Linked DNA regions of Homo sapiens: region 2 is linked to region 1. A link means that fine-mapping ties the variant in region 1 to the expression of a gene that starts in the linked region. Tissue or cell type: whole blood. Region 1 holds a variant in brackets; the other region holds the start of a gene. All regions are shown on one strand. Distances are between the middles of the regions.

Region 1 (8,000 bases):
GTCCTCGAATGTAATGAAATTTTCACAAACACTAAATTTCATAGTTACTAAAGCTGCCATCTTTCATCTGATAGATGTTTCATATAACAAGTTTTAATTTTGATTTTGCCCTTTTATCTTTGAACTTTCAGGTCATCACATTTATTTTTCAGGTCTCAAATACTACCCTGGGGCACCAAAAATCTCCAGCCTGTGCCCACCTGACGCCAGCGGTGGAACAGCCACACCCGCTCTGTACTACAGATAGGGATGATGCGGCTGACTCCTCAGGGGTGACAATGGGGCAGACCCTGCGGGTTTTGTAGGTCTGGCAAGGGCTCTGGCTTTTGCACAGGGTGAGATGGGAACCACTGGGGTTTGAATAGAAGAGTGACATGACACTCCCCAAAGGCAGGCAGGGCGGGAGCTTCCTTTTTTTTTTTGAGACAGGGTCTCACTCTGTCACTCAGGCTGGAGTGCAGTGGTGTGATCTTGGCTCACTGCAGCTTCTATCATCCAGGCTCAAAAATCATCTTGCCTTAGCCTCCTGAGTATCTGGGACCACAGGTGTGCACCACCACACCTGGCTACTTAAAAAAAATTTTATAAAGGGGGTGGGGATCTTACTATGTTGCCCATACTGGTCTCAAACTCCTGGGCTCAAGCGATCTGCCTGCCTTGGCCTCCCAAAGTGCTGAGATTACAGGCGTGAGCCACTGCACCTGGCCTGGTGTTGCTTCCTGTACCCTCAGCCTGACAAGCGTGGGGCCTGGCATGCAGTAGGCATTCCCTGATAGCTCGTGGATTTCCTGGAAAGTGAGGAGGCACTGGGCAGCAGGTCCTTGGTCCATTGTCCATGCCTGCTCATGGCTCAGAAGGACATGTGGAGGGCAGGAGACCTGGTGAAGGGCGGGGGGACCAAAGCTTGCAGATGCCCAAGACTGTGTGCAGTCCTCACCTGGCACACCCACGCCTTGTCTGCCGGGTGTACTATTTGATAACGGCAATCCAGGCTGGTGTCCTGTGCAGCCCCCTTTTCCCAGAGCAACCTTCCTCACCTGCCCCTCAATCCCCTTTGGGAGGAATTTCCCAAAAACCTAAGGGAAAGGTGAGGGTTGACCAGAAGGTGTTCAGAGGTGAGATCCAGCCCCAGCTCTTGGAATCCCTGGCTGGGGTGGGGAGGAGGTTACCCTGGGCCAGTGCAGTGCCCACAAGGCGGCAGCAGAGAGCACCCACCAAAGAGCCTAGAGAGCTGTGTCAAAGGGCGAGGGTCCTGGTTTCTAAACCTGGCCCTGGGCTGGAAGGAATTCCTCTACGGGGCTTTGAAAAAAATCGCAGATTCCAGATCCCTCACCTCTGCCCTATTCCACTGTGCCTATTCCAGTGCCAGAGCCATACTTGGCAGTGGCTCTGGATGGGAGAGGAGGTCAACCTGGAAGGAAGGACAAAGAGGGAGGGAAGGATTGGCCGTCATGCCTATCTTCCTTTCCACATTGTTCACTGACTGGCTGTCAGCTGGTGTGTGGGTGCCCCCTCCCAGAGGAATAAGGACTGGGCCAGGTGGTTTCTAATCCCTTGTCTCCAAGTCAGACAGACCAGGGTTCGAGTCCTGACCGCACCCTTTACTAGCTTTGGGACCTTGGGCAAGCCTTTAAGCTCTAAGTCTGTCTCCTCCACAGTGCAGTGGCAACGGAATCCCTCTGCCTTGTGAGATTACAGTGAGGAGGAGAGAGTTCCTGAGAAGCCCTCAGGGGAGGCTCAGAGCACATCCCAGGTGTTCAGTCAATTGCCAGGATTCATGTCCCCCACAGGGCTGGGTGGGTGGCAGTGGGGATGTTCATGTGGGGACAAGCCTCCTCAAGTAAGGCCACGTGGTGTACAGGGTGGGGGAGGAGAAGGCTGAAAAATGTGGACCTCCCAGCAGAGCAGATGGTGTGGGGGTGGGACCTGGGCTTCCTCAGTTTCCCCAGGATTCTGGTCTCCGCTGGAGATGCCCTGGCTTTGACCGTGTCTCCCCTCTGCACCCTGAATTGTGCACATTCCTGCACATGAGCACACAACACACACAGGGGCCTGTGCAAACCTGGCAAACCTGTGCCAGAAAATTCCTGAGGTGAACAAAACCCCTGCTGGGCAGCCGTGGGGGCCAGCCCGTGGGGGAGGTGACCCAGATGGATGACTGCAGGGGCACAGCAGTGAAAGACAGGTGCTGGGGTGGAGCTGGGGCTTGTGCAGTGTAGGGGTGGGAGCTCTCCAGAGGGGGTGGCCAGAGTCCTGGGCTCTAAGGGCACGTGTGGCTCACAAGCGGAACCGGCCAGAGCTCCCCTGCCACTGTCCCTGGGCTGCCTGAAGCTCCCTTTGACAAAGCCTGAGGCCTACTGACACTGGAGGCCGGATGAGGGCTTTCCCTTGACCTCTGACTGCCTTTCACCATGCAGGAGAACCGCTAGAACTCTATTGCAAGAGCCAGCTCAGAGGGACACAGAGTCCACCAGCCCCATAGGGGAAGGCCCCCTGGAATCGCAGTGGGAGGGGCACAGACCCCTGGGAAGGGCCGCCTGGCAGTTCTGCTGCTCTGCCACCACCTACCGTGGTCACATCAGAGTCTGGAGGGGTCATCTCCACCAGGTTGATGTAGTAGGGTGCGTCCTTCCACGTGGGGTGGTTGTCATTGATGTCCAGGAGGGTGATGTTTACCTGTGAAGCCATAAGGGGCGCTGGGAGACACACCCAGCTGAGATGGGCCAGGGCAGGGCCTGCCAGGGGAAAAGTGCTCAGATGCCCACGGGCAATCTTCGCATTAATTCTGCCAGCTCCACCAACCTTGGGAGCCTTGGGCAGAGCCTGGGCTTTCGAGGGCAGGAAGGAGCCAGGCCGCTTCAGGAGAGAGAGTTCCAGTGTTGTCCCATCAGGAGGCAGTGGAATGGATGTGATAAGCCCTGAAATCCTTGCTGTGACCTGGGGCTTCCCCCATCCCTGCCTCCAGTCTTGGCTGAAGGTGACTGACAGGGTGGGGGATCTAATAGAATCCCTTGAGCCTCCCCGTCTCAGCTACAAGCCAAGCAATTTCCCTGCTCACCTGCCACCAGGTACATTATTTATAGGGCTCTGATTCCTATTAGTAGGAGCCTCCCTTGACAGAGTAGGGCACTGGGGATTTTTCCATCAAATCCCTGGCCACGCGATACCGTCTCCAGCCTCTCTGGCTGGGTAAGGATGGGGTGGCTGCTGCAGACTGGGTGAGGGCCACAGTTTTGAGGGTGAGCCAAAGAAACCGAA[T/C]GGGGAACAAAGAGGGGAGGTGGCTGGAGTGACTGTCAGCTGGTCCTCCCGCTTCCTCTCCCACAGAGGGCTTCTCACTTCCCCTTTCACTTCTGCAGCCGAGAGCTCATTCGAGGCCCCCACGTTTCGTTCCTCTAGCTTTCTACTCTCTGGGGCACATTAGATGGGGGAGAACAAGCCCCCAGGGACCCTCCAGGGCCCTGCTTCCTGCTCTGAGCTGCTCTTCCTCGCAGGAATGCCTGCTTCTGCTTTGTTGACAGGCACCAAGGCAAGGAGGGGCCTATGGGGCTCATGCCTTCTGCCACCTGCCCTCCTGGATTTTTAGGGGCAGGAGAGAAAGTATTTCATTTTGCTCCTCCCAAGTGCCCCTACATTCCTGGTGGTGATGCCTTTCTTCCCCACAGCTGTGGTGGCCCCGGGGGCTGACCTCTGCTGCTGATGGGTTCATTTTCGCCCCCTTGCTCATTCTCACAAAGCCTCACACTGGCTCAGGACACGGGGGTCCAGAGGTACAAGCAGGGAGCAGCAGCCTGGCCGGCGAGGGGGAGCTGGGGCACGGGAGGGGAGCGCACTCACGGTGGCGATGCCAGTTTTCTGGTTGTGGCCCACACCCCCGTCCACTGCGCGAACGATGAGGATGTATTCAGACTTGGTCTCTCGGTCAAGCAGAGACGTGGTGGTGATTTCCCCTGCCAGAGAGAGAAGTGGGTGCGTGAGAGGGTTTGGGTGGGCCAGGGAGAGAGGGAGGGAAGAAGAGAGAGAGCGAGGGAAGGAGAGAGGGTGAGAACTTGCACGAGAAATGTTAGCAAGCTACCATGATCTGGCGGCCTGGATGTGTTCCTGAGCTGGTGCTCACAGTGGGAGACGGGAGAGCTCCTGTGCCTTGGGAGCTGGTTCCCCAGGGCTGGGCAACATAACCCCATGAGGAGGAAATATTTGCAGATGTGGGAAAATCTAGGCTGATTCTCGGGGTTAGGGGCTGGAGAACAGGGCAGGAGGGCCATTAGGCCTTAAGCTCAGTCACAGATCACCTCTTGTTTAGACTTTTGACATTATCTTACTGGCTTTCTCACCTGGAGCTAGTTACTTCAATCCTCTGTGCCTCAGTTTCCTCATAGGGTCCAAAGGGAACCATAATAGGAACTACCTCATAGGGCTATTGTGGGGTTAATTTAATTAAGATCATGGAAATCTTAGAACAGTGCCAGGCACTGTTTATTTATACAGTCACAGAAATACAATGACAGGAAATAAAAACACCGGGTGTTCACATGCGTCTAACTTGTGACTCATTACTGGACAGTTCAACCTATCCAACCTTATCGTGCATTGATAATTAATAGTTATAAAATAATTTCCTAATTACATTGTGAAGAGCATAATTACATTGCCTCGAGTTGTTTTAGTGTGCTAAATCTGAACAATTAAACAACATTTCTTGTTCGCCTGTATTTGGTCTTTCTTTGTATTTTGGTGTAACTGAAATGCAAACATCACCCTGATAGTGGCGTGCTGGTAAATGTTTGACAACTGGCTCCCCAAAATAAAAAAAAAAAAAGGCATTTGCCAATTTCCTTGGTGTAAATAGCCCCACCAGGGCCCATTTTAAGCTACCAACTTGGTGGTATTGAATATGGAGTTCACAATTGAGTGCCTCGCTAGCTCTTGGGAGCAGGGTGAGCCAGTCCCAGCAGACTTCAGCAATCACAGCAGCCAGGCCATTTACTATCTTGCATCAGCCATGGGAGAGCACCCACGTGGTGAAGATGTGAGATGTGGATTTGAATTCTGATTATGGCCCTTCCCAGACGCTTGGCCTTGGAGAATTTTAATTCTTTGAAGCTTCAGTTTTCTCATCTATAAAATGGAGATTAGTGTGACTTCCATGCAGAGCCGTTGTGAGGCTACAGTAATTCTAGGTGAGGCTCCCAACACTCAGAAAATGACTGTTTTCTTCCAATGGACCGTGAGCATTCTCCACGGGCAGGGCCTGTGTGCTATCCATCTTTTTATCCCCATTGCCTGAGCTGTGTGACCTGGGCCAAGTCGCTTAACTTCTCTGTGCTTGGTTCTTTCCACCATAAAACAAGGCAGCTGGACCAGATTGCTTTTAGGACTGCTTCTACCCTGACAGTTCCCTCTGTGGCACACTGGCTTGCCCTCTGGTCTGTGCAGGGGCTGAGCAGGGAGCTGGGGGTGGGTGACAGGGCAGCTTAGGTGCTGAGGCCAGGAATGGAAGACTCACAAAGGTCTGCCCAACGAGCCACACTCCCTGCCAGGGTGGTGTCAAGTAATTGGCAGGGCGAGGAAGAAATTAATCTCTAAAAAGTTTTAAACGTGAACTTGTCGGCATGATAGATGGCCTCTCCTGTCTAGGAAATTAGATCCAATTAAGGCCACCTCTGTGGAGCAGCCCTGGCTAATTTGACCGAGGAACTCAGAGGAAAACACTTACACCTTTGGAGACAAAGTCGTGTTAAGGCAGCAAGAAAATGTCTGTGTCATTAAAGGCCCCAGGTGGAGCTGGAGCCCCGACTGGGGAGGCAAGGGCGGGGGTGGCTAAAAGGCCAGGGAGCTACTCATATAATGGCGCCTTTAATGTTTGGATTCTGGAGTCAGAAGTTCGTGCTCTGCGAGTCCTCAGTCAGGTTACTTAACCTCCCCAGTGGCTCAGCTTCCTCATCTGGAAAATGGGGATAAGGCTAGTACCTGCCTCACAGGTGAGGAGGGCAGAATGAGATGCTGCTGCTGCTCAGAGCCCTGGGAACAGTGCTGGGCATGTGGTTCATATCCATTCATGACATGACTCTGAGACCCCTGGGAATGAGGGCTCACTGTGGGGGAAGCTCCTGAGAGCTGGGAGGAGGGCCCTCACTTTCTCAGAGATAGAAAAGGAGGCTCACAGTGGCCCTGGGTCCCCTTCCTCAGTCTTCGTACCCATCAGCACCGGCCATCTGCTCCCCAAGCCTCCAGGAAAAGGGATTGAAGGCTGACTTCCAACGTGGAGGGATGGATAGCAGGAAGAGCTGATGCCCTGCTGGCCACTGACCACCTGCAGCAGGGATGGCCAGTGTCCACCAAAGATTCCTGCTCCCTTCCCAGGGGAGAATTATTACTTGGATGTGACTGCCAGGCAGGGCCTGGCCCATAACCTCCTCCTAGTGCTCTGACAACCCATGCTCTCTTTTCCCTTCTGCAGTGACCTTGGAGCCACAACATGGAAGGGGCCTGGGTCCCAGAATCATCATGTGGAAGGCTGTCACTCAACATCTACATGGGTTGACTATATGAATTTGAATTTGTATTGTCTCAAGCCACTGAGATAGGGTGTAGCTGTTTAGCATCGACAGTTCCTTTAACTCATACAGAAATGCGTATTGGAAGTGGGGTGCCTTGCATGCCCACTGAGCTGACTAGCAACCTCATGAGGTCAGAGCCATGTCTTATTCCTTCCTGTACCCCAGCACCTGGCTCAGAGCAGCCCCCACCCCAATTTCTGAATGAACATATGAATAAATGAACATATGAATGAATGTACAGAAGTCCCAATTCTTCCCCAGGTCTGGCTGAAAGCCTGGATCTCTTGCTGCTTCTTTCTGCCCACTTTTTCTCCCAGCTTCAAGGAAGAGAGAAAACTGAGGAATGTACATGGAGAGACGAAGAAGAAAGAAGAGAGTTACATGGGCTGAGCTGGGAGCTGGGGGCAGGGGGCTCACAGGTGAATAAACAAAAGAGAATAATGATGGTAATTTTTTTTAGCACTTTTCGTGTGCCAGGGACTAATCAAAGTTGCTCCCTATTATGTATCATTTAATCCACACAACAGCCCTAATATGATCTTCCTCATTTTACAGGTGGGGAAACTGAGGCACACATCCGTGTAAGAAGAGGAGCCAGGCTTTAAGAATGAGGTCAGCAGCTGAGGGAGGGGGACCCTGAGGCTTTAATAAAGGTGTTCCTGAAGAGGGGTGTGTTAACCAGCTCTTTGTAAGATGGAGCACATTTAAAACATAATACAACTCTTCACCCTTGAAAGACGTCCTTCACTGGGTCAATTCACGTTGTGATTTTTTGGGTAAGATCAGTAATCACACTCAAATTAATATTTCATGGATTACACTGGTGCTCAAAGCTGGTCTGCTCAAAACTGAAAGGAAGGGGACCTGGGCCCAGAGGCTGGTCCTGGGGCCGGGTATGGACAGTCAGCCTCAGGGTGTGGAGGACCAGGGTACTTGGGGTGGGGGGGCTCACCTGAGCGGGCATTGATCCGAAACTGGGTGGAGCCTTCCAAGGAGTAGATGATGGACTCCTGGCCGTACTCCCGGGAGCGGTCCAGGTCTGTGGCATTCAGGAACAGCACCGTGGCTCCTTCAGGGGGAAAAAGGTGGGGGCAGGGGGTGCTGCTCACCCTGGGCCCCTGGCTTCAAGGCCCCAGCCCTGGGAGCAGCATTTGCGCTGGCCCAAGAGGAGGACGTGGGACCCTCCCAGTGACCAGCTCTCAGGGAGGTGGGAGGCCTGCCTGTTGCGACATCCCTGGGACAAGGGCGGCTCAATCGTTGCTCTTGGAGCTGAGATCGCTGGGCTGGGTGGGGACAAGGCTCATGAGAGGCTTAGGGATGGACTGGGCCCTCTGATGTCTTCCTGTCTCCCTGGCCCCTGCTTGGCTGGCCACTATATTAAATACACTCAGATTGGCCAACTGTCACTTGGAGTCAAAAGACATGAAATTCCATATTAAATTA
Region 2 (8,136 bases), 300 kb after region 1:
AGAGCTTGGTCAGTATCTTCCCCTCTGGAGGCTGTTCCAAATTGGCTCTCATGCTCCTCCCCTCTGCATAAGTCCTAAGGCCGCTGAGAGGTGTTATTAATTGGCTGATCCACCCATCTGGGAGGGGCAGATGAGGTGGAGAGTAGTTGCTCAATTCCTTCTGCTTGAGGGACAGCATCTAGTCTCCGTCTCAGGCGTCCTAGAGGCAGAGTGTGTACACCCAGCTTCCGGAAACCCTGCCCCCTCCACTCACCTCTTTCTGGCCCATGTGCAGGGGTTTTTGTTGGTTTTCTTTAGAGACAGGGTCTCATTATATTGCCCAGCCTGGAGTACAGTGGCTATTCACAAGCACGGTCCTAGCACACTACAGCCTTGAACTCCTGGGCTCTAGCAATCCTGTTGCCTCAGCCTCCCCATTAGCTGGGACTATAGGAGTTCACCACTGCACCCAGTTCCATGTACAGTTTTGACTGCACACAAAGCTGAGATGTTATTCTAATCTATTTAAAAAACCCTAAAACACAAACACTCTTGTGGCATTAGCATGGTACAACCCGAAGGGGCCAGTGGTGGACTATTAATCCGAGCCTAGCAAAACTGGCCAAAGAGAGAAGCTCCAATCTCATTCTCATCTCTGTGTTCTTATCCACTGCCCTATACAACACTCTGCACCAAGGAACTATGCAATGCCTCTTAGAGAAGGCACTGTGGACCACAGCTCAAACTTTACTGAGCACATGAGTCACCCAAGGATCTTACCAAATGCAGATTCTGATTCAGAAGGTCTGGGGTGGGGCCCAAGAGTCTGCATTTCTAACAAGTCCCCAGGTGATGCCGACGCTGCATGTCCACAGGCCACACTCTGAGGAGCAAGGTTCCGCTACACCTTCACCTCCCAGAAGAATGTGCATTTTAAATGAGCACTTCAGGAAGGTGCCCTTTAAAATACTTGGCTCAAATAAATGAACCTCAAATGGTGAAACTGCAGGTAAGGTAGCTTGTTGAGTGGGGGAGCTATTCCAGAGGCAACCAGGACCATCTGCTATCACAACCCTCAAATCAAGCCCTTTGGTAAGCAGACGTGAGGAGCCCAGCTGTTTAGAGGTGAGGAAGGCCAAGTCTGAGAAGTATATGCGGACCCAGCACAGACGGGGCCAGGATGCTAGCTCTGGGCCTCCCACCCCTCACTGCTGTCCTCCAGCACTCGAGGCAGAGCTTCCTGGTTCACACCAGTGGCTTCTGTGTGCCACCTTCCCAACTCACGGGGGACACCCACCCTCTACCACGAGACACTCTGCCTTCCTGCCCTCCCCAGCCCTGGCAGCCAGAACCAAGCCTTGCTATTCCCCCAGGCAAGGGGCCCCTTCCCAGCTCCTCCTTGGCAGAGTAACATCTAGTGCCCCCACCCCTGTAGGTGCTGACCGCAGTGCGCCTACCCCTGCACCACGAACCAAGCACTAACTCCAAGCCAGCTCTCCCCATCGTGGGCTGACTCATCATCACCATGCAACTGGCCCCAACTAGGTTCTTAAAGCCCGCCCCACCCCACACCCCACAACCTAATTCTTCCCTGTGTGAGGGTCTGACTCCACCCAACACACACACACACACACACACACACACACACACACACACACACACACTCCTGTGTCTCTCTAGCTTATTTCAAAATCCAAATTAGGGTTGGGGCACTTCCCAAGGGGCTGGAAGGCGAGGTCAATGTCAATGCCAGCTCTGGTCTGAGAGGGCAAAGGACGTAGAAAAAGAAGGCTCTGCTTTCTGAATTACTAGGGAGGATGGGGGAGTATTACTACCGAGGAAAGGCTAATTTCCTCCCAGTGGACCGCTGACAGCACTAGGGCTGGGGCTGGGGTCGCAGTGGGGCGGCGGCTGGCATCGGATCTCCGCTCACAGCACGGAGGCAGCCTCTCTAGGTGCCCGCTCCGAGAAAGCCAGGCAGAGTCCCCGCCGGCTGGCGCCGTCACTGCCTTGGAACACGCGGGCTCTGCTCGAGTCCTGGGCTGACCTACGGTGGAGATGAGGGGCAGTGCTCCCGGGTGCCAGCTCCTGGGGGCAGCCAGCACCGCTCGTAGCGGACCAGTTCCAGGGCCAGGAAGGCGAAGCGAGAGCCGCAAAAGGCTCCCGGCTCCTCGAGGGGCGCGTCTTCCCATAGCTGGACCGAATTTGGGAGGATGTGTAAGTCCCCTGGGGTCTCCCGCGGGCACAGGGACTTGATGAGGGGAGGGGAGAACTACGTGCCTTTAGTTCCCCTCAGCGCCTCTGCCCAGCCCGCAGTAGGGGTGCGCCCCACCCCATCCCCACTGTCCAAATGGGGACCCAGGGCTCAGAAGGGGAGGGGATTGGATCCCAACGCGCTCCACTCTCGAAAATCTCTCCACCCCAGACCTGGACCCTCTCCGTAGCGCCGAGAGCAAAGCCCCCAAATGTTCGCGGTCCCAGGACCGGGGATGGGGGATGGGATGCCTGTCCTCCCAAGGCCAACGCGAATGGAATTCGAGTTCCCAGGAATCAAAGTTGCCGCGCGTCGGGGAGCTCGGAGCGGGGCGCGAGGCTAGGGCCAGGGGCCTGGGACCGAAGGATGCCGCGAGCGCCCGCCACGGGCGATGGCCGCGCTGGGAACAAGTGGTTCGGCAGCCGCGGTCACCACCAACTTCCCCGCCGCGCGGCGGGCGAACGGCGAGGGGAAGGAGAGGGAAGCGAGGAGGGAAGAGGCGGTGCGTGGCTCCGGGTACCGTGTGCGTGTGTGCAGCGGCGCCGCGCCTCGCCTCGCCTCGGGCTCTGCTCTCCGCCGGATCGGCCCCCGCGGGCCGCCTGCTCTGGCCCTGGCCACCGCCGCGTCTTCCCGCCGGCGCGAAGGCTCATCCGCGGCGTGCCGGCAGCTCCTGGGTCTCCGCGGGCCGCTCGCCGCTCGCCGCTCGCCGCTCGCAACTTCAGGCGCGCCGGGGGCTCGGACTGGGCGCGCCCCAAACGTCCAGAGGCTCTGCCACCCCGCGCTCCATGCCCAGGCCGGGCTGACTAGCCCCGACCACCTCAGCGTCCGGCCGCCGTCGGACGCGTCCTCTAGCCAAGCATCGCGCCTGCAGCCCGCGTCCCTCTCTCCCGAGCCGCCGCCGCCGCTCAAGTCCGCGATCAACTTTCCCTTGCTTCCCCCGCCCCGCTCGGCCCCCGCCCCGCTCGGCCCCCGCCGTCCAGACCCCGCCTCCCGCAGCTCCCTCCCTCACCTCCCGCCTCGCCCGGCCCCCGCCCGCCCGCCCGCGCTCGGCGCTCCCCCACCCCTCAGGCCGCCAGGACCCCCGAGCTCCCGCCCGGCCCCGCCCGGACCCCCGGGAGCGGCGCCGAGCCCCGCCGGGCGCTCAGGGCATGAATATTTCAGTGCTGGCGAAGCTGCCCTCTGCCGATGTCATGGCACCGGCTGCTGTGGCAACTCTACGAATCCCCCAAAGGGGCAGGGAGGAAGCCCGCGGAAGAGGCCCCAGGTGCGAGACAGAGCAGTGCCCCGCCAGGCCGCCAGCCGTCCCGCAGAGGGGCGCGCAGGGGGATGGGGCCCCCAGCGTCTCGTCCGCCCCGCGCCTCAGGCAGAGCGAGGTAACGCTCCCGGGAAGCCCGGGCGGGCGAGCGGGCGCTCGGCCTAGGTGAGCCCGCGCCATCTGTTGGCTTTAAGCGCCCCCTCTCTGCTCCCAGAGTCGCTGAGCAGTCCCTCTAGTCCTTGGGGCCTCTTGGCCTACGCTTCTCTCCAACCAGCTGCCTTTGCCCACCCGACTCGTGCGCTCCCATCTGCGCCTCCTCCCTCACTAGAGCTCAAGAGGCCTCCAAGTGCTTAGAAATGGAGGACCCCGGGTTGGAGGAGACCCGTGAGGTCACTTAGGCGCCCTCACCCCTGCGGGAGCTCCGTCTGCAGTGCCCGAGTCATGGTCTCCCGGCTCCTTTTTGCACACCTATAGGGACAGAGACTTTATGGCTTTCTGAGACAGCTGGATCAAGAAAGGGTCCATATGCAGGTAATGGAAGAGGTTTATCCCCTACCTTTGATCTTTACTTCCCCGGGGCTAAGCATTCTGATTTTTTAAAACTATTTCTCACATGACAGGATTTCCGAGCTGTCACTGTTCCAGTCAGTACATTGACAGTACCTGCCTGGAGCCAGGCTCTGGGCTGAGACTTTCTGGGCCTCAACTCATTCTATCTTCAATAAAGTCTTTCTGGTGGGCCCTGCCATTATCCCAGTTTTACAGTGAGAAACAGGCTTTAGGAGGTTGGGGACTTGCCCCTGTGGTGGAGTCGGGTATTGAACCCAGAATCTATCTGGTTCCAAAGCTCCAGTTCCTTACCATTCGCTCATTCATTATTCATTCATTCATTCACAGTCACTGCTATGTGCTAGCTAACTGAAATAGTTTCTAGGAATAGGATGGAGAACAAAACAGGCTTGGTCTTTGTGCCCCATGAAGCTTCTCTAGTAGGGGAACCAGACATTCATCAATGAAACACATAAGCAGGTAAAATTACAGCCAGAATCAGTGCTAGGAAGAAGAGTGCTTTAATGGCGCCTGGCCGAGGGGATCAGGGAAGACCTCCTAGAGGAGGTGACTGAGCTGAAGGATGAGCAAGGGAGAGAGAGTGGAGTTTTAGGCAGGAGAAACAGCATGTGCAAAGGCCCCAGGTGCCCACTGCAGGCAACGGCTGGGCCAGGAACAATGGTTTGGTGACCGCAGTCGCAATCAACTTGTGCAAAGGTGGGAAGGAGCTGGCATATGTCAGGAAGTCCAGAAAGGGTGGGGAGAGCTCCGTGCCTCCAGCGTACGAGGAAACGCTCCTGGGAAGCTTGGGAGGGTGAGTGAGCCTGCACCATCTGTTGGCTTTAAGCACCCCCTCTCTGATCCGAGTCACTGAGTGGTCCCTCTAGTCCTTGGCAGTGACTGTAAAGCCACAATGGAGTGGGGGCCAGACTGTGCAGGTGTGTTGGCCTTAATCAGGAGTTGATCTTTATCCTAAGACTGAAAGCTTCAGAGGCCGGGCTTGGTGGCTGACACCTATAATGGCAGCATTTTGGGAGGCTGAGGCAGTAGGATCACTAAGACTCTATCTAAAAAAAAATAAGAGAGAGAGAGAATTGATTGGGAGGCAACAGTTGATGAGAAGAGACTGCTTCAATTAAAAGTATTTATTTGTCAAATACTATGTGCCAAGAAATTTTCTAGACCAGGGGTGAGCACACCGCTACCCAGAGGTCAAATCTGCCTCATCACATGTTTTTGTAAAGAAAGTTTTAGTGGCACACAGACATGGCCTGTTTGGTTGTGTCTCCTTTCACACTACAACTACAGACATAAGGAATTTCAAGAGGGACCGCATGGCCTGCAAAAACAAGAAATATTTACAGCCTGGCCCTTTACAGAAAACGTTAGTTAACCCCTGTGAATTTAGACACTTTGGATATGTCAATGAACAACACACACAAGCACACACACACAGGCACACACACATGCACACAGACACGCATGCTTGCGCCAAACAAATCCTTGCCCTGGTGAAGCTTACATGTCCTCAGGCTGCTGCAGTGTCTAGGTGATTGGTGACAGAGGCCTGGAATGAGGGGGTGGGTAGAAGTGGAGAGAAGTGACTTTCAGGAGGTAAAAATCTACAGGGCCAGGAGGACAGGGAGTGGTTATACGTGAGATAGAGCAAAGGGTCAAGGAGACTTCTGGGTTTCTGGCTTGTGGTGGTAGATGGACAGTGTGCTGTTTCCTGTGATGGGGCCCTCTGAGGAGGCCACTATGGAGACCTGAGCAAGAGCTCCCTTGGGACATGTTGTGTGAGAGGCCTGTGCAGTCACAGAACAGAGATGCCAAGTAGGCTCTTGGACAAATGAACTGGAGTCGTGGTCCTACATGTCTTAGGTGGTCATGCTTTTACACAGTGTGATGGAGCCAGGAGTCCGGAGAGCGGGATCTGAGTTCTAGGTCACCCTCTAGCTGGATGGTAGCGGGCTGGACACTGGACCTCTCTTGGCCTTGTGTTCCCCATTCGTAAAATGAAAGCATGAGAAGAGGTGTTCTTCAAGGTTCTCCACCCCTCAAACCTTCTGTTACACACTGTGCCAAGCACCGTGCTGGGAACTGGGGTGTCAGTTGGGATGCAGCCAGCCCACAGAACCACCGTGAGTGTGTAACAGACAGGGAATGGAAGGGCTGAGAATTCTAACTGGATGGCGAGGCGACCCAGAGTGCAGCAACAGCAGAAAGTGTGCCACCCCTAGACTGGAGGGATAAGGGAGGAAGCAGAGTGACCAGGATCAGGGCACACGGTGGAAGGTGAGACCACAGTGGGCCTGTGTGGTGTGGGCTCGAGTCACAGAAACACAGCTACTGCCAGAGACGGTGGAGTGTGAAGACACATCCCGGCTTCTTTCCCCAGCCCTCTCGTCTCCCACCTGAAGACAGTGGACCTGGGAGTTTGCGGGGTCAGCCTGCTGTGATGCAGAGCAGCACCACAGAGGGGAGGAGAGAATGGCCCTGAGGGGAACAGGCCAGCACCGCACACCGGGGACACAGATGTGAGTGACATCCATCCTGTCTTCAAGGCACTCCCAGTGGGAGAGAGGGGCAGATGAATCAGTTACAACCTAGAAAGGTAAGTGTGGCAAAGTGGACAAATGGCCCAAAGGAGAGTGGGGTGATTCATTGTCATGAAATCTTGAGTCCAGAAAGGCTGCCTGGACAAGGGGACATCAGAGCTGGCTGCAGTGAGCCGAGATTGACCAGGAGGTCACAGGCAGCAGAAGCAGAAGGGCGCTCCAGGTGGAGGAGCAGCATGTGCGGAAGCCTGGAGGCATGCACAGGGACTCTCCCCAGGCAGCCATGGGAGCTACTGGATCCCGGAGGTGAACAGCAGTCTTGCTCTTCTGCACATGAACCAGCCAAAGGCAGGAGATGGCGTTTGCAGGAGGCTCAGAGCTGGGGGGAAGAACCCAGCCTCTATTCTCTGAACCAGCATCTCAGAAATTCTAATCTCTTCATTCCAGGAGATGAATCACCTAAGTTTTCACCTTTCTGTCTTTCTGGGATTTCCATTCCTGAAACCGTATCAGGGCTGTTTCAACAACAGCTCTCGAAGTTCTCCCTAGAGCCCTTCCCTCAGGAAACATTTGCCTCCTCTCCAAGCCCCTGGGGCATCAAGGAAAGTACACCAGTGTGATAAAGAAGCACCCCTTGCCACCTTATGTGGTCCTGGACAAGTCGCTGAACCACTCTGTGCCTTGTTTCCATTTCTGAAAATGAGAGAATGGTGCCTGCCCAGCCTCCCTCCTGGGGTGGATATGAAAGCGCTTGGACAGCCACGAAGAGCCACAGAGATGCCAACTTCCCAGGACCCAGCATCATCCAAACCCCACTCCTACTGGGGGACCCCCACTGTATGAAGTAAGGGGTAAGACCAGGCCCTGCTTTAATTGCAAAAGCTAAAAAGGGAGGTCCTCATTTGTCCTGCCTTCTGCCTGCAGGGCACAGTGCATGACTAGGCAAGCCAGTCAGAAGCTCCACTCTCAACTTTGAACCTTGAGAAGGACCATAACGTTTGTAAACAGTCAAGAATCATTTTGAAGCTATGCAAAGCACCTAGCCCTGACTCCAGGACTTCTGAAGCCTGACCTGGGTTGTATTTTCAGCTGCATCCTTAGCCACCAGCCTCCTTTTGTTCCTATTTGTTGTCTGGGCCTGTCCTCCAGTCTTCTGGTTGAATCTGCCCCTGTTAACTAACTAGTGAGTTCAATTTTTGCATCAGGTAGCCAGAGTTCATTTCTGTTGCTAGCGACCATGAGAACCCTGCCTGGTACAGACCATCTGATGATTCCTCTGGTGATTGTAGTAGGGAGTGTAGAGCAGCGTAGAGTCAGCATTGTTAGAGAAATGCTACCTCCCCTTTCCCAAAATTAAAAAGAAAAGAGAAAGAAAGAAAAAAAGTGATATACAGTTCCTTCCATATCCAGGGCATCTTGCCCAGGGATCTCCAGAAGCGGCCACATCTGTACAGCGGCTTCAAGATCATGTTTAGTCCACAGCACACTTGATTTTAAGATTCTCGAAGGCAGGGACTGTGTGTTTGTTCATTTACCTAACA

Evidence for each region. PIP is the estimated chance that this variant, and not a neighbour inherited with it, causes the effect.
Region 2: CDH23 starts here. The variant in region 1 is fine-mapped to the expression of CDH23 in whole blood (TOPMed, PIP above 0.99).

The regions. Positions count from the first base shown.
Region 1 is chr10:71,690,094-71,698,093 of GRCh38, reverse strand. CDH23 (cadherin related 23) reads right to left here. Exons shown (of 70, transcript NM_022124.6): 20 at 7,510-7,626; 21 at 3,835-3,947; 22 at 2,569-2,676. Among named protein-coding and RNA genes, the nearest start is that of C10orf105, 26 kb to the left of the region's middle. RefSeq lists an enhancer at 3,972-4,041. The variant T/C (reference allele first, on the strand shown) is at 3,259.
Region 2 is chr10:71,391,936-71,400,071 of GRCh38, reverse strand. CDH23 (cadherin related 23) reads right to left here and starts at 3,152. Exons shown (of 70, transcript NM_022124.6): 1 at 2,754-3,152. RefSeq lists an enhancer at 2,349-2,860 and a silencer at 3,544-3,633.